Linked DNA regions of Homo sapiens. The protein of the gene in region 1 interacts with the protein of each later gene in a biochemical or structural test. Each region holds a gene or a part of one and is shown in the gene's direction. Other genes may lie near its edges. The genes, in order: ERCC6, SAE1, FYTTD1, MRPL3, EIF3L, RHOG and GRPEL1.

The links.
Region 2: the proteins of ERCC6 (region 1) and SAE1 form a complex in vitro, tested with the Homo sapiens proteins (one large-scale study listed by BioGRID).
Region 3: the proteins of ERCC6 (region 1) and FYTTD1 form a complex in vitro, tested with the Homo sapiens proteins (one large-scale study listed by BioGRID).
Region 4: the proteins of ERCC6 (region 1) and MRPL3 form a complex in vitro, tested with the Homo sapiens proteins (one large-scale study listed by BioGRID).
Region 5: the proteins of ERCC6 (region 1) and EIF3L form a complex in vitro, tested with the Homo sapiens proteins (one large-scale study listed by BioGRID).
Region 6: the proteins of ERCC6 (region 1) and RHOG form a complex in vitro, tested with the Homo sapiens proteins (one large-scale study listed by BioGRID).
Region 7: the proteins of ERCC6 (region 1) and GRPEL1 form a complex in vitro, tested with the Homo sapiens proteins (one large-scale study listed by BioGRID).

Annotation. Positions count from the first base shown.
Region 1 is NC_000010.11:49,532,622-49,536,121, reverse strand, and holds part of ERCC6 (DNA excision repair protein ERCC-6), read left to right. Parts: intron 1-3,143; 5' UTR 3,144-3,157; coding exon 3,158-3,500. UniProt on the Homo sapiens protein: Involved in repair of DNA damage following UV irradiation, acting either in the absence of ERCC6 or synergistically with ERCC6. Involved in the regulation of gene expression.
Region 2 is NC_000019.10:47,137,335-47,140,834, forward strand, and holds part of SAE1 (SUMO-activating enzyme subunit 1), read left to right. Parts: intron 1-3,500. UniProt on the Homo sapiens protein: The heterodimer acts as an E1 ligase for SUMO1, SUMO2, SUMO3, and probably SUMO4. It mediates ATP-dependent activation of SUMO proteins followed by formation of a thioester bond between a SUMO protein and a conserved active site cysteine residue on UBA2/SAE2.
Region 3 is NC_000003.12:197,756,383-197,759,882, forward strand, and holds part of FYTTD1 (UAP56-interacting factor), read left to right. Parts: intron 1-43; coding exon 44-175; intron 176-3,500. UniProt on the Homo sapiens protein: Required for mRNA export from the nucleus to the cytoplasm. Acts as an adapter that uses the DDX39B/UAP56-NFX1 pathway to ensure efficient mRNA export and delivering to the nuclear pore.
Region 4 is NC_000003.12:131,468,472-131,471,971, reverse strand, and holds part of MRPL3 (large ribosomal subunit protein uL3m), read left to right. Parts: intron 1-692; coding exon 693-801; intron 802-2,198; coding exon 2,199-2,276; intron 2,277-3,500.
Region 5 is NC_000022.11:37,855,919-37,859,418, forward strand, and holds part of EIF3L (eukaryotic translation initiation factor 3 subunit L), read left to right. Parts: intron 1-2,760; coding exon 2,761-2,822; intron 2,823-3,500. UniProt on the Homo sapiens protein: Component of the eukaryotic translation initiation factor 3 (eIF-3) complex, which is required for several steps in the initiation of protein synthesis.
Region 6 is NC_000011.10:3,828,719-3,830,959, reverse strand, and holds part of RHOG (rho-related GTP-binding protein RhoG), read left to right. Parts: intron 1-2,241.
Region 7 is NC_000004.12:7,061,730-7,065,064, reverse strand, and holds part of GRPEL1 (grpE protein homolog 1, mitochondrial precursor), read left to right. Parts: exon of another isoform or gene 1-182; intron 183-841; coding exon 842-1,004; intron 1,005-2,598; coding exon 2,599-2,680; intron 2,681-3,335. UniProt on the Homo sapiens protein: Essential component of the PAM complex, a complex required for the translocation of transit peptide-containing proteins from the inner membrane into the mitochondrial matrix in an ATP-dependent manner.

The DNA of each region.
Region 1 (3,500 bases):
TTTTCGAGACAGAGTTTCACTCTTGTTGCCCAGGCTGGAGTTCTGCGGTGTGATCTCAGCTCACTGCAACCTCTGCCTCCTGGGTTCAAGCGATTCTCGTGCCTCAGCCTCCCGAGTAGCTGGGATTACAGGCATGCACCACCACGCCTGGCTAATTTTTGTATTTTAGTAGAGATGGGGTTTCACCATGTTGGGTCAGGCTGGTCACGAACTCAGGTGATCCACCCGCCTTGGCCTCCCAAAGTGCTGGGATTACAGGTGTGAGCCACCAAGCCTGGCCTGAAACTTCTTTTACCAAGGTAAATGGTGACCCATTGGTATCCAAATTCACTCAGCCTTTTCTCATTCACTGGACGCTCTTCCTCCTTTTTTATTATTAGAAGTTTTCCCCAAACTTCTTTATTTTTAACCTTGTCTTTACACTACAATACTATTGCTTTTTGATATTATTTTACAGAAATAGAAAAATGGTTACTTAATATTTTTGGTTGAATTGGCATCCTTTTTTCTTAAAAAGAAATCCTCATGTGTGTACAAATAAGAAAAATGAAAACAGAATTGTTAACTGCCAGCTAGTACAGACACTCTGAGCTGGAATCCTGCTCTCTCTGTTGGAAAGTGAGGTGAGCTGAGCCTTCCTCTTGAAAATAATCAGCAGGCCCCAAAAGAAGGAACTTTCTCACTGTGTTGTTCACTTTTTAACCTTTCCAATGTTAGCCTCCTCGTACCCTCCAAAATGACCTTAGGTACCTGTCAGAGCCTTGGGAACCCTGGAACTGCTCACTCTGCTGATGTGTCCACATGTCACCCAGACTTTCCCTTGAGCTCAGATTTGCATTTCTGACTGCATGCTGCAAATGGTACTGATTACATGTAAGCTGCTTGCCAGTCCTGCTTCCTATCTGCTTCCTTTTTGAGAGTCTCATTTTTGTGACTGAATTCACTGGTGACTCATTTGTCCAGACCAAACTTTTTATTATTTTAGACTTAGCTCTGAACCTCACTTCCTTTCAGCAGATATTGAGCACCTCCTATATATCAGACCATGCATGGCCCATGTGTTCAAATCTCAGTTCCTCCGTGATATTTCTTGGGCCCCAGACACCATATATAGTTCGCTCGATGCTCGTGTGACCTCTTGTCCGTGTCCCGGGCTAGCTGACCTGCCCTGCTCTGTTGTTAACTGACATGCTGCTGCTCCAGTGGATAGCCACTCGGGTGTAGATGATGCTGAATTCTTTGTATCCCGGTGCTTTATTGCTGGGCTTATTTTACTTAATAAGGGATGAGTGGGGCCCACTGGGGGAACTTGTCATTTAACAGAAAAGTTACAGTGCTCAAAGAAATCTTATTCACAGTTAAACAAAAAGCAAGACTGATTTTTGGTTATCGTTTTGCTTTTTAATATATTTATTAGATGTGATAGTTGTATAGGTAATATAGTGAATATATTCTCCTTAAAGCAGCAGGTCCTGAGTATGTGGAGTACAATGTGAACATTCCCCCTTATTTTTCCCTGTGCTTTCTCTTCCCCATCCTGATTTGCAGGCTTAGTTTGTATCCTGCCAGATCATTCTGTGTGCAGGATAGATACTTTTTTCAGCATAAGTGTGTTCATACCATGAATTTTTTCACTTAACATGGCTTTTATATCAGTATACAGAATATACTTAGTAGTTACATTAAACTATTAAAAATGTGCTGCACTAAACATTCTTGCACCTGTGTGTGACTAGTTCTCTGGAATAAATACCTAGAATTGCTTGACAAAGGTCATGTGCCTTTAATTTAATAGATATTGCTAAGTTGTCCCTACAAGGGGCTTTACTAATTTATATTCTCAGCAGCACTATGTGAGGGGGGATCCTTCTCCTTGTCTGTATTGGATTTATCTATCAGGCTTTGAATTCTTGCTAACCTGATGGGTGAGAAATTATACTGTGTATTAAAATGGAGTTTTTTTTTTGTTTTTTTTTTTTTTTTTTTTTGAGATTGAGTCTCACTCTGTTGCCTATGCTGGAATGCAGTGGTGAGATCTCATCTCACTGCAACCTCCGCCTCCTGGGTTCAAGTGATTCTCCTGCTTCAGCCTCCCGAGTGGCTGGGATTACAGGTGCTCACCATCATACCCAGCCAATTATTGTATTTTTAGTAGAGATCGGGTTTCACCATGTTTGCCAGGCTGGTCTCAAACACCTGACCTTAAGTAATCTGCCCGCTTCAGCCTCCCAAAGTGTTGGGATTACAGATGTGAGCCATCGTGCCCAGCCTATTTTTGAGAATATTTTAATTAATCTTTTAAAAAAACTTTAAATTTATTTTACAAGGTCTTGCTCTTTTGCCCAGGCTAGAGTGCAGTTGTGCAATCATGGCTCACTGCAGCCTCCATCTCCCAGGCTCAAGTGATCCTCCTGCCTCAGCCCCTTGAGTAACTGGGACTATAGGTGCACATCACCAGGCCTGGCTAAGGTTTTAAATTTTTAGTAGAGACAAGGTCTCATTATCTTTCCCAGGCTGGTCTCGAAGTCCTGAGCTCGCTGTGTTTCCCTGGCTGGTCTCTATCCTCCCGCTTTGGCCTCCCAAAGTGCTGGGATTACAGGACTGAGCCACGTGCCTGGCCTAATTAATCTTCTGAGCTTCTGATTTGTTCAAAGCTCCTATTTACTGGATAGGTATTCAGCCTAGGAGTTTCTAGTCTCAGATTCACACAGAAGCTCTTTCCTAACATCGCTGTTCCTATGCATTACAGTTGATCTTGCCACTATATTATAAATCATTTGTGTCATAATGAAATGAAGATGCTAACTTGGAAAACAGCAGCCAAATGACTTCAGCTGTTTTGAAGAATATTCCATGGCCATCACCCCAGGATTTTGGTGGCTGGCTTTCTTAGCTGGCTGCCTAAATGTCCTTTGTTGATGATACTGCATTTCTTTTTCTGGTTAATTTTTCTTATTTATTATCAGAACTCAAGAAGATACGTTGTCCCTTTTTAGTAAATTAATACTTGGAAACTTGAATTTATGTAGTTGGAAGATTATTACTTGATCTTTTGAGAAATCAGTCTGCTCTAATTATAAAATATTTAAGAACTACAATGAATCCTATATAACGAAAAGGCTTATAAATTTTTTTCCTTTTAGGTAGTCTGTAGAGAATGCCAAATGAGGGAATCCCCCACTCAAGTCAAACTCAGGAGCAAGACTGTTTACAGAGTCAACCTGTCAGTAATAATGAAGAAATGGCAATCAAGCAAGAAAGTGGTGGTGATGGGGAGGTGGAGGAGTACCTCTCCTTTCGTTCTGTGGGTGACGGGCTGTCCACCTCTGCTGTGGGGTGCGCATCAGCAGCTCCGAGGAGAGGGCCAGCCCTGCTGCACATCGACCGACATCAGATCCAGGCAGTAGAGCCTAGCGCCCAGGCCCTTGAGCTGCAGGGTTTGGGTGTGGACGTCTATGACCAGGACGTGCTGGAACAGGGAGTGCTTCAGCAGGTGGACA
Region 2 (3,500 bases), on another chromosome or scaffold:
CCAAGGTCACACTATCGCACTCCAGCCTGGGTGACAAGAGCGAAACTCTGTCTCAAAAATAAATAAATAAAATAAAATAAAGTAAAGAAGCAGCTTCCTAGAGCAGATTTGGTTGCTTAAATTGAGGCCAAGTTTCTGGAGTTTTTATTGATAGTTGACAATTACAACTAAAATTTTTTTTTCTCGCTCTGTTACCCAGGCTGGAGTGCAGTGACGCAGTGACGTGATCTTCAGCTCACTGCAACCTCCACCTCCCGGGTTCAAGGGATTCTCCCGCCTCAGCCCCCAAGTAGCTGGGACCACAGGCGTATGCCATATCACTCAGCTAATTTTGTGTGTGCATGGCGTATGCCGTAACACTCAGCTGATTGTGTGTGTGTGTGTGTGTGTGTGTTGTTTTTTTTTTTTTTTTGTGATGGACTCTCACTCTGTCGCCCAGGCTGGAGTGCAGTGGCACAATCTTGGCTCACTGCAACCTCCGCCTCCTGAGTTCAAGCGATTCTCCTGCCTTAGCCTCTGGAGTAGCTCGGATTACAGGCGCGTGCCACCACACCTGGCTGATTTTTATATTTTTAGTAGAGACGGGGTTTTACCATGTTGGCCAGGCTGGTCTCAAACTCCTCACTTCAAGTGATCTGCCCACCTCGGCCTCCCAAAGTGCTGGGATTACAGGCGTGAGCCACTACACCCGGCCTATGTGTGTGTATTTTATTTTTTTATTTTTTTGAGACGGAATTTCTCTCTTGTTGCCCAGGCTGGAGTGCAATGGCGTGATCTAGACTCACTGCAACCTCTGCCTCCCGGGTTCAGGCAATTCTCCTGCCTCAGCCTCCTAAGTAGCTGGGATTACAGGCGCCTGCTACCGCGCCCAGCTAATGTTTGTATTTTTAGTAGAGACCAGGTTTCGCCATGTTGGCCAGGGTGGTCTTGAACTCCTGACCTCAGGTGATCTACCCGCCTCAGCCTCCTTAAGTGCTGGGATTACAGGCATGAGCCACTGCGCCTGGCCAGAAGTTACCTTCTTTGTGCCTGTTTTCTCAGCTGCAAAAGAGGGGTAACAAAGTGCCAGCCCATTAGATTGTCATGGGAATTAAATGACATAATACATACAAAGAGCTTAGTAGAACAGTGCTTGGCACATAGTAAGTGTTAGATAAATGTTGGCCATTATTATTTTATTATGTACCAGATTTCTATAATTCTGCTGATGGACACAGGTTTGTTTTGGTGTGTCTATTAATTCACAGCCATTTGAGTAACAGTATGTCCTAAATGCCAAGGAAGTTACTGGTTCTAGTGATACAGTGGTTTCTGGAGTTTACATTCTAATGGAGGAGGGGGCAGTAAACATATAAACAAGTAGTGTAGCTTAGCACAGTGGTGTGTGGCTGTGATCCCAGCTACTGGGGAGGCTGAGGTTGGAGGATCACTTGAGCCAGGCAATTGAGACTAGCTTGGGCAACTTAGTGAGGCCCCATTTCAATCAAAACAGTGGGCAACACAGACCCCATCTTAATCAAAACAAAAACAAGTAGCATAATTCGAGATAGAAGAGGATGTGGACCTATTTTAAATTAGGTGGCCAGTATGGACTTCTCTAAGGAGGTGACAATTGAGCTGAGACCTAAAGAATGTGTCCCTTAAGAAGTTGAGGGAAGAAGCAATGGGAAGCACTAATGCCAAGGTCCTAAGGTGGGAGCAAGGATGGGAGCAAGGATGATGTTCTCTAGGATCAGCCTCCCGAGTAGCTGGGACTACAGGCACGTGCCACCACGCCTGGCTAATTTTTGTATTTTGAGTAGAGATGGAGTTTCACCATATTGGCCAGGCTGGTCTCGAACTCCTGACCTCAAGTGATCCGACCGCCTCGGCTAATTTTGTGTATTTTTAGTAGAGACGGGGTTTCACCGTGTTAGCCACGATGGTCTCCATCTCCTGAACTCATGGTCCTCCCACCTTGGCCTCCCAAAGTGCTGGGATTACAGGCGTGAGTCGCCGCGCCTGGCACACCCAGCTAATTTTTTTTTGTTTTGTACAGATGGAGTCTTACTTTGTTGCCCAGGCTGGTTTCGAACTCATGGGCTCAAGTGATCCTCATGCCTTGCCCTCCTAAAGTGCTGGGATTACAGGTGTGACCCACTGCGTCCAGCCTGCTGTAGTTTTGTCGGAGAGAAACGATGGTGGCTCAGACTAGAGTGGTGTTTGTGGAACTTGAGGGAAGTAGATGGACAATGCTGCTGTGAATGTGTATCTTTTTTTTTTTTTTTTTTTGAGACAGAGTCTCACTCTTGTCACCCAGGCTGGAGTGCAGTGGCGCGATCTCGGCTCACTGCAAGCTACACCTTCCGGGTTCACACCATTCTCCTGTCTCAGCCTCCCGAGTAGCTGGGACTACAGGCACCCGCCACCACTCCCGGCCAATTTTTTTTTTTTTTTTTTTGTATTTTTAGTAGAAACGGGGTTTTACCATGTTAGCCAGGATGATCTCAATCTCCTGACCTCGTGATCTGCCCGCCTTGGCCTCCCAAAGTGTTGGGATTATAGGCGTGAGGCACCGTGCCCTGCTGAATGTGTATCATTTTTGTGCCCACTTGGGTATTTCTTTTTTTTTTTTTTTTTTTGAGACGGAGTCTCGCTCTTTCGTCCAGGCTGAAGTGCAATGGTGCGGTCTCGGCTCACTGCAACCTCCGCCTCCCGGGTTCAAGCGATTCTCCTGCCTCAGCTTCCCGAGTAGCTGAGATTACAGGCGCCTGCCACCACTCCCGGCTAATTTTTTTTTTTTTTCTTTTTGAAACAGACCCTTGTTCTGTTGCCCAGGATGGAATGCAGTGGCGCCATCTCGGCTCACTGCAAACTCCACCTCCCGGGTTCACGCCATTCTCTTGCCTTAGCCTCCCGAGTAGCTGGGACTACAGGCGCCCGCCACCATGCCCAGCTAATTTTTTATATTTTTAGTAGAGATAGGGTTTCACCTTGTTAGCCAGGATGGTCTCGGTCTTCTGACCTCGTGATCTGCCTGTCTCGGCCTCCCAAAGTGCTGGGATTACAGGTGTGAGCCACCGTGCCCAGCCCACGCCCGGCTAATTTTTGTAATTTTAGTAGAGATGGGGTTTCACCATGTTGGCCAGGCTGGTCTCGAACTCCTGACTTCAGGTGATCTACCCACCTTGGCCTCCCAAAGTGATGGGATTTGTAAACCCAGCACTTTGAGGGAGGCAGAGGCAGGAAGATTGCTTGAGCCCAGGAGCTGGAGATGAGCCTGGGCAACATAGTGAGACCCTGTGTCTACAAAAAAAAAAAAAAACCCATAAATCAGCCAGGTGCAGTGGTGTGCACCTATAGTCCCAGGACTCAATAGGCCGAGGTGGCGGGATCACTTGAACCTGGGAGGTTGAGGCTGCAGCGAGCCCTGATCTTGCCACTGCCCTTCAATCTGGGTTCACAGAATGAGACCCTGTTTCAATAAAACAAAACGTAAACATGGTATTTGGTGTTGATGG
Region 3 (3,500 bases), on another chromosome or scaffold:
AGTTAAGTTAAAATGAAAATAATTGACATTTCCTCTATCATAGATGATATCATCAAGTTGAATCGAAAGGAAGGGAAGAAGCAGAATTTTCCAAGACTAAATAGAAGACTCCTCCAGCAAAGTGGTGCCCAGCAATTCAGGATGAGAGTGCGATGGGGAATCCAACAGAATTCTGGTAAGTTTTGAAAGTAAGCTTTAATGGAAAGCTGTTATTTGTGTGTTCATAGTGTACTGTCTTTAGCATATGCTTAACGTGGAGGAATGCGTCAGTACTCTTTGTGTTTTGTGTTTCCTCTATGCCTAGGTTTTTGTTTAGATCTAAAACCTGGTAAAAATTTCAGTAGCCTTCAATAGACGTAACACTGTCTCTTAAACGTTGTAAGTCATTTAAAAGTAACTTCAGTTTATACACAGTCTAAATTATATTCAGAGTTTAGAATTGCAAAGGATCTTATATATCATGAGCTCCTATCTTCATCCAAGTGAGATGTTCCTTTAACAGTCTGTCTAATGGATGACTAACTCCAGCTTAAATATATTCAGTGAAAGAGCATACTACCTCACAAGCATGAGCCACTGTGCCTGGCCTCTTAATTTGGATTAAAGCATGCCTATCACTTCGGTAAAGTTATAGAAAGCAAATTCTCTTTTGTATATGAGAACTCTTTAAGTATGTGGAGACTACTGTTACATTCTGCATAGAAAATGACCTCCAGACTCCTTATCTTATCATCCAAGAACTTTAGGATTTGTTAAATCTTCCAAAGTTGACACTCAGAAATGAATGCTTTAGATATAATGTGGAACTCTACACATTTAGTTATTTTTGATAATCTGGAAGCTTATTTATAACCATCTTGATTGAAGGCAGTAATTGAACACTAATATATATGGCTTGTTAACTTCTTTATCAGCAATATCAGAATTTTAGAATAAATATTTGTTGAAATAAAAGAACTAAATCTTTTTCAGATATGTAAAAATATGTTTGACAAACTAACTTCCAAATTGATTTTTATTCTATATGTTGAAAAACATAAAAATAATCTCCAGTAGGTTGAACATAATTAGTTCTGTGTTTACAGCTAATATCCCATTATATCCTCAAAATATGTATAACTGAAGCTGAGCACAGTGGCTTATGCCTGTAATCCCAGAACTTTGGGAGGATCAGTTGAATCCAGGAATCTGAGACCAGCTTGGGCAACACAGGGAGACCCTGTCTCCACAAAAAATTTAAAAATTAGCCAGGCGTGGTGGTACCTCTTTCTGGTCCCAGCCACTCAGGAGTTTGAGGTGGGAAGATGGCTTGAGCCTGGGAGATCAAGACCACAGTGAGCCATGATGGCACCACAGCACTCCAGCATGAGACTCTGTCTCAAGAAAAGTACATATAACTGAGATTGGGCCCTTAAAAAAAATTATTCATCTCTAATAATTTTTTGAATAGTTGAACCTAAGGGAGTAAATTTCATGACAGGTATTTAACTGTAGCAAATGAAGTTTAGTTCCAGTGATTTATATTTAAATTTTTTTTTGAGACGGAGTTTTGCTCTTGTTGCCCAGGCTGGAGTGCAAAGGCACGATCTTGGCTCACTGCAGCCTCTGCCTCCCGGGTTCAAGCGATTCTCCTGCCTCAGCCTCCCAAGTAGCTGGGATTACAGGCATGCGCCACCATGCCCAGCTAATTTTGTATTTTTAGGAGAGACAGGGTTTCTCCACGTTGGTCAGGCTGGTCTCGAACTCCCAGCCTCAGGTGATCCACCTGCCTCGGCCTCCTGCCTCAGCCCCACAAAGTGCTGGGATTACAGGCGTGAGCCACTGCGCCTGGCCTAAATATTTCTTATAAATGTTATTGAACATACTATATATTTTTGTATTATTTGTTTTTAAAATAACTGTTGAGAGTTCATAGAACCAGAAATATATTTATTAATTAATGTTTATCAAATATTTAACATGAATATATTTCAGTGTTAAATACTTGATAGATACCCTAAACTGATTGGGTCCTAGGGGGTACATAAAGATGTGGTCTTCTACTTCAAGGAATTAATTTCCGGTGTTAGAGATAAGATGGAAAAGGTAGTGTGGGAGAAATGTTGTAAGAGAAATTCAAATAGTATTATAGGACTTTAGAGATTTTGTACTAAGAAGATCAGGAGTGATTTAATGGATAAGGTGAAATATGATCTGGTCCATGAAGTGTCAGAAAAGCTTTCCTTTTATGGATGTTATGATCTGAGCCTTGAAATAAATGATATCTAGGGGCAGCTTAGGATCTCCTAAGATTGAGCTTGCCCTTGTATGTTTATTGCTTACATGTGACACGGGCTAAAATAGAACAGCTGCCACTGTTACTGAATGTACAGAGATAGAGGATTGTCTTAAACTCTGATTGGCTAGGAAAAAGTTCAGATTTCCACGTTGTAATGTCAATGAGGATGTTAGCTTGAGGTAAGAGAAATAAGTAGGACAGAGGAGCTCTTTGCAGATCCGCGGTATGATTTCTGATGGCTGAACAAGTCAATGAATGAAATCTTTAACTTCGTGTGTGAAAAATAATTTAGGCACTCAGTAAATACTTGGAGAAACAACCCAAATGTTCTTCAGTGGTAGAGCGTATAGAGTTGTTCTTCAGTGGTAGAATGTATAGAGTTGTTCTTCAGTGGTAGAAAGTATAGAGTTGTTCTTCAGTGGTAGAAAGTATAGAGTTGTTCTTCAGTGGTAGAATGTATAGAGTGTTCTTCAGTGGTAGAATGTATAGAGTTGTTCCTCAGTGGTAGAATGTATAGAGTTGTTCCTCAGTGGTAGAATGTATAGAGTGTTCTTCAGTGGTAGAATGTATAGAATTGTTCTTCAGTGGTAGAAAGTATAGAGTTGTTCTTCAGTGGTAGAACATATAGAGTGTTCTTCAGTGGTAGAATGTATAGAATTGTTCTTCAGTGGTAGAATGTATACAGTTGTTCCTCAGTGGTAGAATGTATAGAGTGTTCTTCAGTGGTAGAACGTATAGAGTTGTTCTTCAGTGGTAGAATGTATGGAGTTGTTCTTCAGTGGTAGAATGTATAGAGTGTTCTTCAGTGGTAGAATGTGTGGAGTTGTTCCTCAGTGGTAGAATGTATGGAGTTGTTCCTCAGTGGTAGAACGTATGGAGTTGTTCCTCAGTGGTAGAACGTATAGAGTGTTCTTCAGTGGTAGAGCGTATAGAGTTGTTCTTCAGTGGTAGAACGTATAGAGTTGTTCTTCAGTGGTAGAACGTATAGAGTTGTTCTTCAGTGGTAGAACGTATAGAGTTGTTCCTCAGTGGTAGAACGTATAGAGTTGTTCCTCAGTGGTAGAACGTATAGCGTGTTCTTCAGTGGTAGAACATATAGAGTTGTTCTTCAGTGGTAGAATGTATAGAGTGTTCTTCAGTGGTAGAACGTATAGAGTTGTTCTTCAGTGGTAGAACGTATAGAGTGTTCTTCAGTGGTAGAACGAATAGGGTGTTCTTCAGT
Region 4 (3,500 bases), on another chromosome or scaffold:
CTGCCTCCATACCTACTAATAGTCCATTGGCAGACCTCAGGTCCTTCGTTAATAGCTGGAGACATCCTTGCAGCATGTCTCTCCATAGGACAGTTTACACTAGCTGTGGAAGTTGGCTTCCTTCAGAGCCTGGCAAGCAAGAGAGTACCAAGATGGAAGCTACAGTCTCTTTGTAACCAAATCTCAGAAGTGACATCTCATCACTCTTGCCATATTTTATTTATTAGAAGCAAGGGACTAGGTTCACCCAGACTCAAGGGGAGGGAATTAAACAGGAGCATGAGTACCAGGAGGTGGTGATCTTTGGGTTCCATCTTAATGGCTGCTTGCCATATCTGCTATAAGTACTTTGAAACTTCTAGAGCTTTTCCATTTTTACTGTGTCATCTTCACAGAATTAGGATGATAAAACTCCTGTTCAGATAAAATTCCCTGTGCTTAGCTTGCTGGTGTCTCACAATCTTGAATTAATCATTTTATATAGAATTAGACTCCAGGAAGGGGTGCAGACCAAGACAGAGATAAAGGAATATTTATTTGCAGTTTTAGTTGTATAGCCTTTTCTAGTTATTTAAATAAGAAGCTTTGTTAAAACTCTAACAAGAATGTGTACAGTTGGTACTAGAAAGTGTACAATTGGGAATGGTCTATGCTCTTTTCATTATGTAAATTCTAACGTTTGTTTTGTTCAGTATTGGTAAAGGTTTTCAAGGTGTCATGAAAAGATGGGGATTTAAAGGCCAGCCTGCTACGCATGGTCAAACGAAAACCCACAGGAGACCTGGAGCTGTTGCAACTGGTGTGAGTATAACTAGTGAAGCTCTTTTTAATGCTAAATATTCAACTTCTGCACATGTAGTCCTCAGTCCGTCCTTGATATGAAGTCACATAATTTTAGTCTGACACAAGGGGACTCCATGTACTTGTCACCCTTTTATGGATCCTTGCCCCTCACTCATTTCCCAGAGCCAGACTAGAATTAGTTATATTCCACAAGGTTAGCTGAGCATCTGTAGTTTGGCTGTATATACCCTGAGTCTAAATTTAAAATGTACTTTGTGCAAATGTTGAATTCAGTTTGTCTTTTGAATTAGTATCAGTTAACAATTCTGAAATAATTTTCTGTGAATTGTAGGATTGAGTAGATAAGTAAATGTATTGATAATGGAGCTAGGTTTCTCACTGTTGGAAAAGGGCGTTAAAGTATGAAAATGGGAAAATTAAAATGAACCCTATAGTGTTGAATTCAAACTATAAGTATGCATATACTGTTTGGTGGGGGAGGGGAATGCATGCATGCACACAAGGAAAAAATGTAGCACACAGAGAAACAGAGGGGTGTGTGTGTGTGTGTCTTAGTTCTGTCTACTGGAACATTGTAGTCATATATAACGGAATATATTTGTAGAATGAATAAGAGTGATACTTAGTCTGTAATACTCAGAATTGTCTTTTAAGCCTGTTGGTTACATATTAAACATATCTAATGCCATGATGAGGTACTTCCACTGAGAGTTTCACCTGTTAATGTGAGAGCAGCTGATGGAAAAGTGTTTATATTGTGAGAATTCATGTGTTATAAGAAGCTGTTCCATTTTAGTCATAATTCAGATTTGCTTCTTTAGATGTAGAACTATTACCCGTTATCAGAGCCAAAATCAGAGACTGTTAGATTTATGTAAATCAGAGAAAACCAGGGCTAGACAAACTAGTATTCTGATAACTAACTCTGTCCTTGAATAATTTTGGTCAAGGAAAGTAACATCTAAAGCAAGGAGCAGTAGGACCATTCCAGCACCAGTGGTATGGATGAAGTCCATTAAGTCAGTTAATACAGAAGATGAGTTCAAAACAGGCCTGGCAGTCCATTTTTTTTCTTTGAATGATGGTGTCGGTGTGTCTGTATGCCCTTGTCCTTTTTTAATTCTTAGCCAGTATTAGGTCCGTTGTTGCTGAGTTTTTCTCCTAAATCTGCTTCTTAGTCTGTATTTATTTTATCATTCTAGTCTCATTAGAAAGGAAATCCTCTAGGAGTAAATATGCCTAAATCCATATTTAGTTCCTTACTTGGGACCTAGCAGAATAGGGGAAAAATAAAACATTTTAATAATTTATATTTTTAGTTTACATTGTGGTTTGATCAGTGCTGTTTAAAATTGATAGTACTTAAAAGTGTTAACTTTAGTTTTCTCATTTAGGATATTGGCAGAGTCTGGCCTGGAACTAAAATGCCTGGAAAAATGGGAAACATATACAGGACAGAATATGGACTGAAAGTAAGTGTTACAAGTGGTTCTTTTTAGGAACAGCTAAATTGTCTAAATGCAAAGGCAGCAGAATATGTATTTAATCTGTGTCTGTACCATTGTTCTAAGAGGCTTTAAAATTATTGAGGAAAAGAGGATACATGAATTGTGTGTGTGTGTGTGTGTGTGTGTACACTCTAGTTGTAGTAATGGTGGTAGTAATGATAGGGTATATTTCAGGCCATGAAAAGTGCAGTCATTAAAGAGACAAAATTAGTAGTCCACTCTTGGACCTGGAAGATTTTTACAAGATATTGTTGCATGAAAAAAGTAAGATTCAGAGCATTCAGTATAATACTCTTTATTGAGTAAAAGATTTAACAAAAGCTCTCTACGTGTGTATGTTGCTGTGCCATCATATAATCACAGAAGAGTGGAAGGGTATATACCAGGTTCTTGGATTATATATCAAATGTGTGTGTGTGTGTGTGCGTGTGTGTGTGTAAGTGTAAGGAGGAGAGTGGGAGGCAATCAAAATAGGAGGAAACAATAGCACTACAAAAGGATTATGATATACATCCGTTTTTATAAAAAATGTCTGTGTATATTTAAAAGAGAAGTTGAATTCAATCTCTACCAATGAGAAATGTACCTAAGTAAAACTGAGTTATACTATAATGGATGCTGTATAATTATATTTCTGTTAAACAACTAATGTTTATATTTGTTTGCATGTATGTTTTAAAGTGTAGGAAGTACAAAGAAGAAAATAAGCCACCAATAAGAACAATACCCAAAGACAATCACTGGAAACATTTTGGTGCATATCCTCCCAGTCTCTATTCTGCATACCTTTTATATATAAATTTTGACCAGGAGAAGTTTTCAAATTTTATATAATTAAACCTAAGATTTTTTTTACCCCTTCTATTACATTTATACTTATCAGAGACCATCTATTTGCTGTATTTTCTTCGTGTGTGTGATTTCAATTTTTGTAATATTTAATACTTATTCATTATTAGATAGGAGCCATGGGTCAAACTTGATTCCTTATCCAAATATTTTATTTTCTCAGTACCATTTTTTGACCAATCATTCTCTCCCATTTATGTACGTTTTTTCTCCACATGAAGATTTTTTGAGGACCATCTACTCAGCCCACTTACTTTAGAAATTAGAATCAGTGAGGTTGTGGCTTCTCCAGCCTCTAGTTACAGCAAGCTAGTATTAACTAAAAATAAAATAAAATTG
Region 5 (3,500 bases), on another chromosome or scaffold:
GCTCTCTAGCTTCCCACCTTTGACTTTCTTAGATGATGTCCTTTATATATGGGTGAGGTAGGCAAATCCAACTTCATTATTTTGCTTGTGGATATTCAGCTACCCTGGCACCAATTTATTTATTTATTTATTTTATTTTATTATTATTATTTTTTTTGAGATGGAGTCTCGTTCTGTCTCCCAGGCTGAAGTACAGTGGCACAATCTTGGCTCACTGCAACCTCCGCCTCCCAGGTTCAAGCGATTCTCCTAGGTTCAAGCAATTCTCCTACCTCAGCCTCCCGCGTAGCTGGGATTACAGGCGCCCGCCACCACGCCCAGCTAATTTTTGTATTTTTAGTAGAGACGGGGTTTCACCGTGTTGGCCAGGCTGGTCTCGAACTGCTGACGTCAGGTGATTCGCCCACCTCAGCCTCCCAAAGTGCTAGGATTATAGGCATGAGCCACCGCACCCAGCCTGCCCAGCTAATTTTTAAAAATTTTTTGTAGATACCGGGTCACACTTTGTTGACCTGGCTGATCTTGAACTCCTGACCTCAAGTGATCTTCCCAGAGTGCTGAGATTACAGGCATGCACCACTGTGCCCAGCCACATTGTCTTGATTACTATATTTTTGTAGTAAGTTTTGAAATGGGGAATTGTAGGCCGGGCGCAGTGGCTCACGCCTGTAATCCAAGCACTTTGGGAGGCCGAGGCGGGTGGATCACCTGAGGTCGGGAGTTCGAGACCAGCCTGATTAACGTGGAGAAACCCCATCTCTACTAAAAATACAAAATCAGCCGGGCATGGTGACACATGCCTGTAATCCCAGCTACTTGGGAGGTGGAGGCAGGAGAATCACTTGAACCCGGAAGGCAGAGGTTGCGGTGAGCCGAGATCGCGCCATTGCACTCCAGCCTGGGCAACAAGAGCGAAACTCCGCCTCAAAAAAAAAAAAAGAAAGAAAGAAATTGGGAATTGGTAAGTCCTCCAACTTTGTTCTTTTTTTTTTTTTCCCCAAGATTGTTTTGACTATTCTGGGTCTCTTGGATTTGCTTATTGATTTTAGGATGGACTTGTCAATTTCTGCAAAGTAGCCAGCTGGGATTTTGAGAGGAATTGCCTAGAATCTGAAGATCACTTTGGGGAGTATTGCCGTCTTAACAGTATTAAGTCCTCCAGGCCAGGCGCGGTGGCTCATGCCTGTAATCCCAGCACTTTGGGAGGTGAAGGTGGACGGATCACGAGGTCAGGAGATCGAGACCATCCTGGCTAACACGGTGAAACCCCGTCTCTACTAAAAATGCAAAAAAGTTATCTGGGCAGGCCGGCATGGTGGCGGGCACCTGTAGTCCCAGCTACTCGGGAGGCTGAGACAGGAGAATGGCGTGAACCCGGGAGGCAGAACTTGCAGTGAGCTGAGATTGCGCCACTGGACTCCAGCCTGGGCGACAGAGCAAGACTGCGTCCCAAAAAAAAAAAAAAAAAAAAAAACCAATATTAAGTCCTCCAATCTATGGACATGGGATGTCTTTGATTTATTTAGGTCTTTGGTTGCGTTCACCAGTGTTTTGTGTTTTCAGTGTACAAGTCTCTCATTTGTTTTGTTATAGCTAACGTTTTTTTGAACACTTAACTCCTTTTTTTTTTCCCCCTAAGATGGAGTCACGGAGTCTTGCTGTCTTGCCCAGGCTGGAGTGCAGTGGCGCGATCTCTGCTCGCTGCAACCTCTGCCTCCTGGGCTCAAGCAATTCTCCTGCCTCAGCCTCCCGAGTAGCTGGGATTACAGGCACCTGGCGGATTTTTTGTATTTTTAGTAGAGATGGTGTTTCACCATCTTGGCCAGGCTGATTTTGAACTCCTGACCTCAAATGATCCACCCGCCTCAGCCTCCCAAAGTGCTGGGATTACAGGCATGAGCCACTGCACCTGGCCTGAACATTTACTCTCAATTGACTAAACACAGAATGAGTTCAAAACTCATTCTGTGGCTGGGTGTCGTAGCTCACGGCTGTAATTCTGGTACTTTGGGAAGCTGAGGTGGGAGGATTTCTTGAGGCTGGGAGATTTAGACTAGCCTGAGCAACATAGGGAGACCCCCTTCTCTACAAAAAATTTTTTAAAAAAATTATCCAGGCATGGTGGCACATGCCTGTAGTCCCACCTACTCGGGAGGCTGAGGTGGAAGGATCACTTGAGCCCTGGAAGTCGAGGCTGCAGTGAGCCATGATCATATCACTGCACTCCAACCTTGGCAACAGAGCGAGACCCTGTCTTCAAACAAACAAACAACATTCTGAAATTAATATTTTCTTTCTTCCTTTTTTTTTTTTTTTTTTTTTTTTTGACATGGGGGTCTCACTGTGTTGCCCATGCTGGAGTGTAGTGTGATAATGGCTGACTGCAACCTGTGCCTGCTGGGCTCAAGCGATCCTCCCACCTTAGCCTGCCGAGTAGCTGGGACCATGGGTGCGCACCACCACGCTTGTCTAATTACTCTTGTGTGCTGGTTTTTTTATGCACTTGGATGGCAGAAGTCTCTAAATGGTGAAAGGAAATAGATCTGAATGAGATCTTAATCTCATCGACAGAGATTGAGGTTGATGGAGTCAAATGAGAAGTGGATTTTCTCATTGCATGTATTCTTGGGGCATATGCATAGCAATTTAGATGTTGTTTAGTCTTCAGAATTACCTTTATTCCTCCCCACCAAAGAGCTAAAGCTGCCAGGATACCCCAGTTTTATGGTTAGTGAAGCACCCTTCTGCCATCTCTTTCAGATGCTGTCTTCCTGATTTTATACAAAGAATTATACTACAGGCACATATATGCCAAAGTCAGTGTAAGTATTTAAGTGTCGCAGTTTTTTTTTTGTTTTTGTTTTTTTAACTCTGTGCTGTTTTTGTCCCTAGAACACAGTCATTTGTTTATATTGGTTCAGTGTCTGGGCATGATTGGCATGTTTTTGAGTTTTAAGAAGCGGTGGAAGGAACAGTTTAACCCAGAAAGCTGTTCAGACACACTAACGCTATATAACCTATGCATTCTTTTAAATTTCTCTGTCCCCACAATTCTCCTGGACTGGGCAATCACCCATGCACTGGTTATAGGCTGCCAGCCTCATAGGATATTTCCAGGTACCTGCTGCTGCTTCTGCTTGGGGTTCTTTTTCCCTTCAGAGCATTGAGCCTCTGTTTCTCTGAGATGTACATAACACTGTCACTGTATGCCAAGCACAATGCTAGGCACTTAGCACACATCTTCACATATCTAATTCTACTATCAATCGTGCAAAGTTGGTACCCGAGGTGCCAAGAGGTTACCTTTTCTCAAATTTATCCAGCTAGTAAGTGACAAAACTCCTTGAATCTAGACCAGCTTGTTATAACACCAGTATTCTACACATTATCCCAACTTTGAGCACTTGCTAGATTCTGTTCTTCCCGACTTCTAAATTATAGAGTACGTGAAGTTTCTTTTTTTTTTTTTTTTTTTTTGAGAGAGAGTGAGTCTCGCTCTG
Region 6 (2,241 bases), on another chromosome or scaffold:
ATTGACCACCAAGAGTCCCCCATGGCCAAGAGGAAGTAGCTGATGAGAGAAGGATCCTTGCCATAGCAGTGTAAATAATCACAGGGTTTCTGGAAGCTGTGTTCCAGAACTCAGAAAAGCAGTTCATCTCCCCGAGGCCCTGTGACCTGCAGAGGTAACCAGATGTTGGCTGGAGCTGGGACTCCTCATACTTACCCCACTCATAAATACAGCAGTCCATTTATTGGGCACTTGCTATGTGCCATACCTCATGCTGGACATCTTCTATACATTATTAACTCTTACTTTTTATTTTTTTTTTTTTGAGACAGGGTCTTGCTCTGTCGCACAGGCTGGAGTGCAGTGGTGTGATCATAGCCCACTGCAGCCTTGACCACCCTGGGATCAAGTGATGCTCCCACCTCAGCCTCCCGAGTAGCTGGGACTACAGGTGTGTACCACCACACCCTGGTAATTTTTTCATTTTTTGTAGAGTCAGGGTTTTGCCATGTTGCCCAGGCTAGTCTCAAACTCCTGGGCTCAAGCGATCTACCTGCCTCATTCTCCCAAAGTGCTAAGATTACAGGCATGAGTCACCGTGCCTGGCCTCATTTCATATTCTGAGCAATTGTAATGCAATAGGCAAGATTATCCCCATTTTACAGATGAGAAAATTGAGGCTCAGGGAACAAATATATTGCCAAGATCACATATAACTAGTTGGTGGAGCTGTGATTAGAATACCTGCGAGTCTTACTCTAGCATCTATGTTCTTAATGATGGTATTTTCTATCCAAGAGTCTGGAAGTCTCTAAAATCTTTCAGAGGCACATGCCAGGATCTCAGGAAATGGACAGAAGATTGAGGGGAAAGTCAAGTTTTTGTCTTACTCTTGACTTCATCCTTCCTAGTTGGGCCTGAAAGATTTGCTCCAGGCCGGGCATGGTGGCTCATGCCTGTAATCCCAGCACTTTTTGGAAGGCCAAGGCGGGCAGATCACAAGGTCAGGAGTTCAAGACTAGCCTGACTAACATGGTGAAACCCCGTCTCTACTAAAAATACAAAAATTAGCTGGACGTGGTGGCATGCGCCTGTAATCCCAGCCACTCGGGAGGGTGAGGCAGGAGAATCGCTTGAACCCGGGAGGTGGAGGTTGCAGTGAGTCAAGATTGCGCCACTACACTCCAGCCTGGGCGACAGAGCAAGACTCCGTCTCAAAAAAGAAAAAAATTTGCTCCACCCCACCAAGGGCCTTGAGAGAAGATACTAATGTCTGGGAGCCTCAGCCTCTACCTCATTCATCATAACATACCCAGACCCCAGTCCAAATCCCAGGTCCAACTGAATCTCCAGTATTCCCCTGCATTGAATTGGCAATCTGAGTGTACATGGCCAGATAGGGTTTTCAGTACTTACAAGAATGATGGGGTGGCCAGGTGTGGTGGTTCACGCCTGTAATCCCAGCACTTTGGAAGGCTGAGGCAGGTAGATCACCTGAGGTCAGGAGCTTGAGACCAGCATGGCTAACACGGCGAAACTCCATCTCTACTAAAAATATAAAAATTAGCCGGATGCAGTGGCACCTGCCTGTAGTCCCAGCCACTCGGGAGGCTGAGGCAGGAGACACTTGAACCCAGGAGGCGGAGGTTGCAGTGAGCTGAGATCACGCCACTGCACTCCAGCCTGGACGACAGAGTGAGACTCCATCTCAAAAAAAAAAAAAAAAAAAAATTTCCCCATTGCCAGAATACCCTGGATTGGGATAGGGCAGCTCTCTAAAGAATTGAGCCCCTTACTCAGCAGGTTTCTTAACTGTGCCTTTGGGTTTGTACTCAGTAGCCAAGATACCAGGTTTGGAGAGGGCAGGGTGGGCCCTGAGTTGAGAGAGGTTCTACTTATGGCTGCATCACAGAGTGACCTGGGACAGCTGTCCTGTGCCAAAACACTTTCCAGTCTCCTGGTGGAAAGGGTCCATATTTAGTAGAGGATCTAGTAGATCCCTAAATTTGTGCACTCTCCTTTTGTGTCTGTATAGCCTGGAAAAAAAAAATAGCTAATACTGGCCAGGCGCAGTGGCTCACGCCTGTAATCCCAGCACTTTAGGAGGCCAAGGCGGGCGGATCACGAGGTCAGGAGATCGAGACCATCCTGGCCAACACGGTGAAACCCCATCTCTACTAAAAATACAAAAAATTAGCCGGGCGTGGTGGTGGGTGCCTGTAGTCCCAGCTACTCGAGAGGCTGAGGCAGAATGGCGTGAAC
Region 7 (3,335 bases), on another chromosome or scaffold:
CCTTAGAATGGAAAGAGGAGGTTAGTACTGTTCTGTACCAAGTACTGTAACTTGGCACATTGACATGTAAGTTTAGGCATGTACTTACAGAAGATCTTATAAAAAAGACAGGCACAGTGGCTCATGCCTGTAATCCCAGCACTCTGGGAGGCTGAGGTGGGAGGAACACTTGAGCCCAGGAGTTCGGGGTTACAGTGAGTTATGATTGTGCCACCATACTGTAGCTTGGGTGACAGCGAAACCCTGTCTCTAAAAATACATGGAGAGGCCAGGCGCGGTGGCTCACGCCTGTAATCCTAGCACTTTGGGAGGCCAACGCGGGCAGATCACTTAAGGTCAGGATATCAAGACTAGCCTGGCCAACATAGTGAAACCCCATCGCTACTAAAAATACAAAAATTAGCCGGGTGTGGTGACGAGCAACTGGGGAGGTTGAGGTGGGAGTATCCCTTGAACCCACGAGACGGAGGTTGCACTGCACTTCAGTTTGGGTGACAGAGCAAGACTCTCTCTCTCAAAAAAAAAGAAATACATATAGATATAGATAGATGTATAGATAGATAGATATATAGAGAGAGACCAATCCTGTCTCTAAAAAAATATATATATGTTTATCTTAGATCTAATAAAGGCACATTGTATATGACTTACAGCTTTTATATTTACTAATATAGCTTCTATATGTCACGTACAGTGTGCCTTTATTAGATCTAACAGAAATGTTTTCTCCCCAAGTAATAGTAAATAGTTTGAAGCTATTTTAAGTTTCTAAAGTCATACATCTGACTTTAATAAGCACAAAAACTAAGTCTTCGTTTCTCACGTGTGGACTTCCCTGTAGGCCATCTCCCCGGTTGTTGTGCACAGCCACGAAACAAAAGAACAGTGGCCAGAACCTGGAAGAGGACATGGGTCAGAGTGAACAGAAGGCAGATCCTCCTGCTACAGAGAAGACCCTCCTGGAAGAGAAGGTCAAGTTGGAGGAACAGCTGAAGGAGACTGTGGTGAGGACTGTGAGGCTCCTGTGGGGGCGGGCTCGGCTGAACTGTTTCTCTCCTGGGCCACATAAAGGTTCCAGGTTTCATTGGTGACAGACTAAAGCCAGAGTTAAGCCGTTGTCCATGGCCTGCAGTGGGCCCAGGTGGCAAGTTACTGCCAAAGCAAAGACTAAAACCCAAATCCTGTGCAACTCTGGTTCTGGCAAGAGACTAATCTTTACACGCTGTTATTTGTCATTGAATGAAAACTTAAAATCATCTTTACAAATGAGGAATGCTCAGTATGGTTGTTTAGGCTGGGACTTAGGAGAGGAAGCAGAAAATTGCAAGTACAAGAGTTGGGAGCAGGAGTGTGGTTTTATGTGATGCTCTCATAGGCAGGTAGGAGTTTTATGAACTAGTAACATGGATTATTACTCCATGTGAAAACACATAGGTGGCACAAATCAAGTTCTTTAAGGATTTGAGAAAGACATCAAACCCTGAGTGCTGGCACCATTCCAAACCCGTTACATATGTTAATCCTGGCTGCCAGGTGCGGAGCCAGGGCTCGAACTAGAACCCCCTGGACTTGGAGCTCTTGCTCCTTGCCACTGTACAGTGATTACCTGAAGACTGAAAATGGATGCAGTATAGAGGCCCCCACAGAGCAACTTAGTAAATGTTAAAAAGAGAAAAGCTAGCTGGGCGCAGTGGCTTACCCCTCTGATAGCACTTTGGAAGGTTGAGGCAAGAGGATTGCTTGAGCCCAGGTGTTCAAGACCAGCCTGGGCAACATAGTGAGACTCCATCTCTAAAAAAAATTAAAAATTAGCTGGGCGTGGTGGTGCACTCCTGTAGTCCCAGCAACCCAGGAGGCTGAGGTGGGAGAATTGCTTGAGCCCAGGAGGTTGAGGCTGCAGTGAGCCGAGATTACACCACTTCAACCTGGATGATAGAGCAAGACCCTGTCTCAGAAAAAAAAAAAAAAGGCTCAGATGAGTGAGCTTACCGGAAGGTGGTGAGACATGAGGAATATACTAGAACTCAGATGATGATTACACAAGGAATGTTTGAACTGAGCCACCTCTGGGTAACACAGCATAGCAAAAGATCATGAGTGCAGCTTTTATTAAGCTTTCATTAAGCTGCCCTCCTTAGTCACATCTCAAAGGCAGTGATATTACTTCTGTTTTGACTTGTAGTTAGTTACACAGCCGTTTTCCAATCAAGCTCGCTTTCCTATGACTTTGTTCCATATTAATATAAATCTCCCGGCCAGGCATGGTGGCCCACACCTGTAATCCCAGCACTTTGGGAGGCCGAGGCGGTCGGATCACAAGGTCAGGAGATGGAGACCATCCTGGCTAACACGGTGAAACCCTATCTCTACTAAAAATACAAAAAAATTAGCTGGGCGTGGTGGCAGGCGCCTGTAGTCCCAGCTACTCGGGAGGCTGAGGCAGGAGAATGGCGTGAACCCAGGAGGCGGAGCTTGCAGTGAGCTGAGATCATGCCACTGCACTCCAGCCTGAGCGACATACAGAGCAAGATTCCGTCTCAAAAAAAAAGATATATATATATATATATATATATAAATATCCCTTTTTTTCTCTTTTAGGAAAAATATAAACGAGCTTTGGCAGACACTGAGAACTTACGGCAGAGGAGCCAGAAATTGGTGGAGGAGGCAAAATTATACGGTACTTTCAACATAACATGGTGTTGATTCCGGAAAGAAGATAATGGGGTGGGGAAGGGGAAGGCCATGCATACGGAAGTGTCAGAGAGCAAGGCTGTGGGGTGGGGGGTCCAGCTGTTGCATCCCCTGCATTTTTTTTTATGATGGCTCAACAGCAAAGGTGTCTGGAGGAGCAGAAATCAAGTAGCTGAGACTAGCATGAAGAATTGTAAATAGGTGTGTCCTCCCCCACGCAGAGACCTTGGTGGGAACCTGCAGCAGGTCAGCCTCTGATGCCCATCCCCTTAGCCCTCCGGAAGTAACACTGGCATCACTTCAGAACTCCCAGCATGCTATATGCATTGCCACCTTTGGATGTTTTTGTTACTGTCCTTCCCATTTTACAGTTGAGATCATTGAGGTTTAGTCACCTGCCACACATCACAAAGCTGGTACGTAACCCCAGGCTCCCAGCTCCACAGGCTGGTTGTTTGAGTGCTGGCTCTGGATCTCTGCGTGACTGACAGTGGGTATTAGAGATGTGGAACCTAAGGCTCGAGGGAGGGTAAATGGCCTTGCCTGGGTCAGACGGTGAGAGGCCACATGGAAACTAAGAGCTAGAGTCTCTGTCGCATTCACAGAGACTGAGGCGCTCATTGAAACACTTTTTTTCCTGG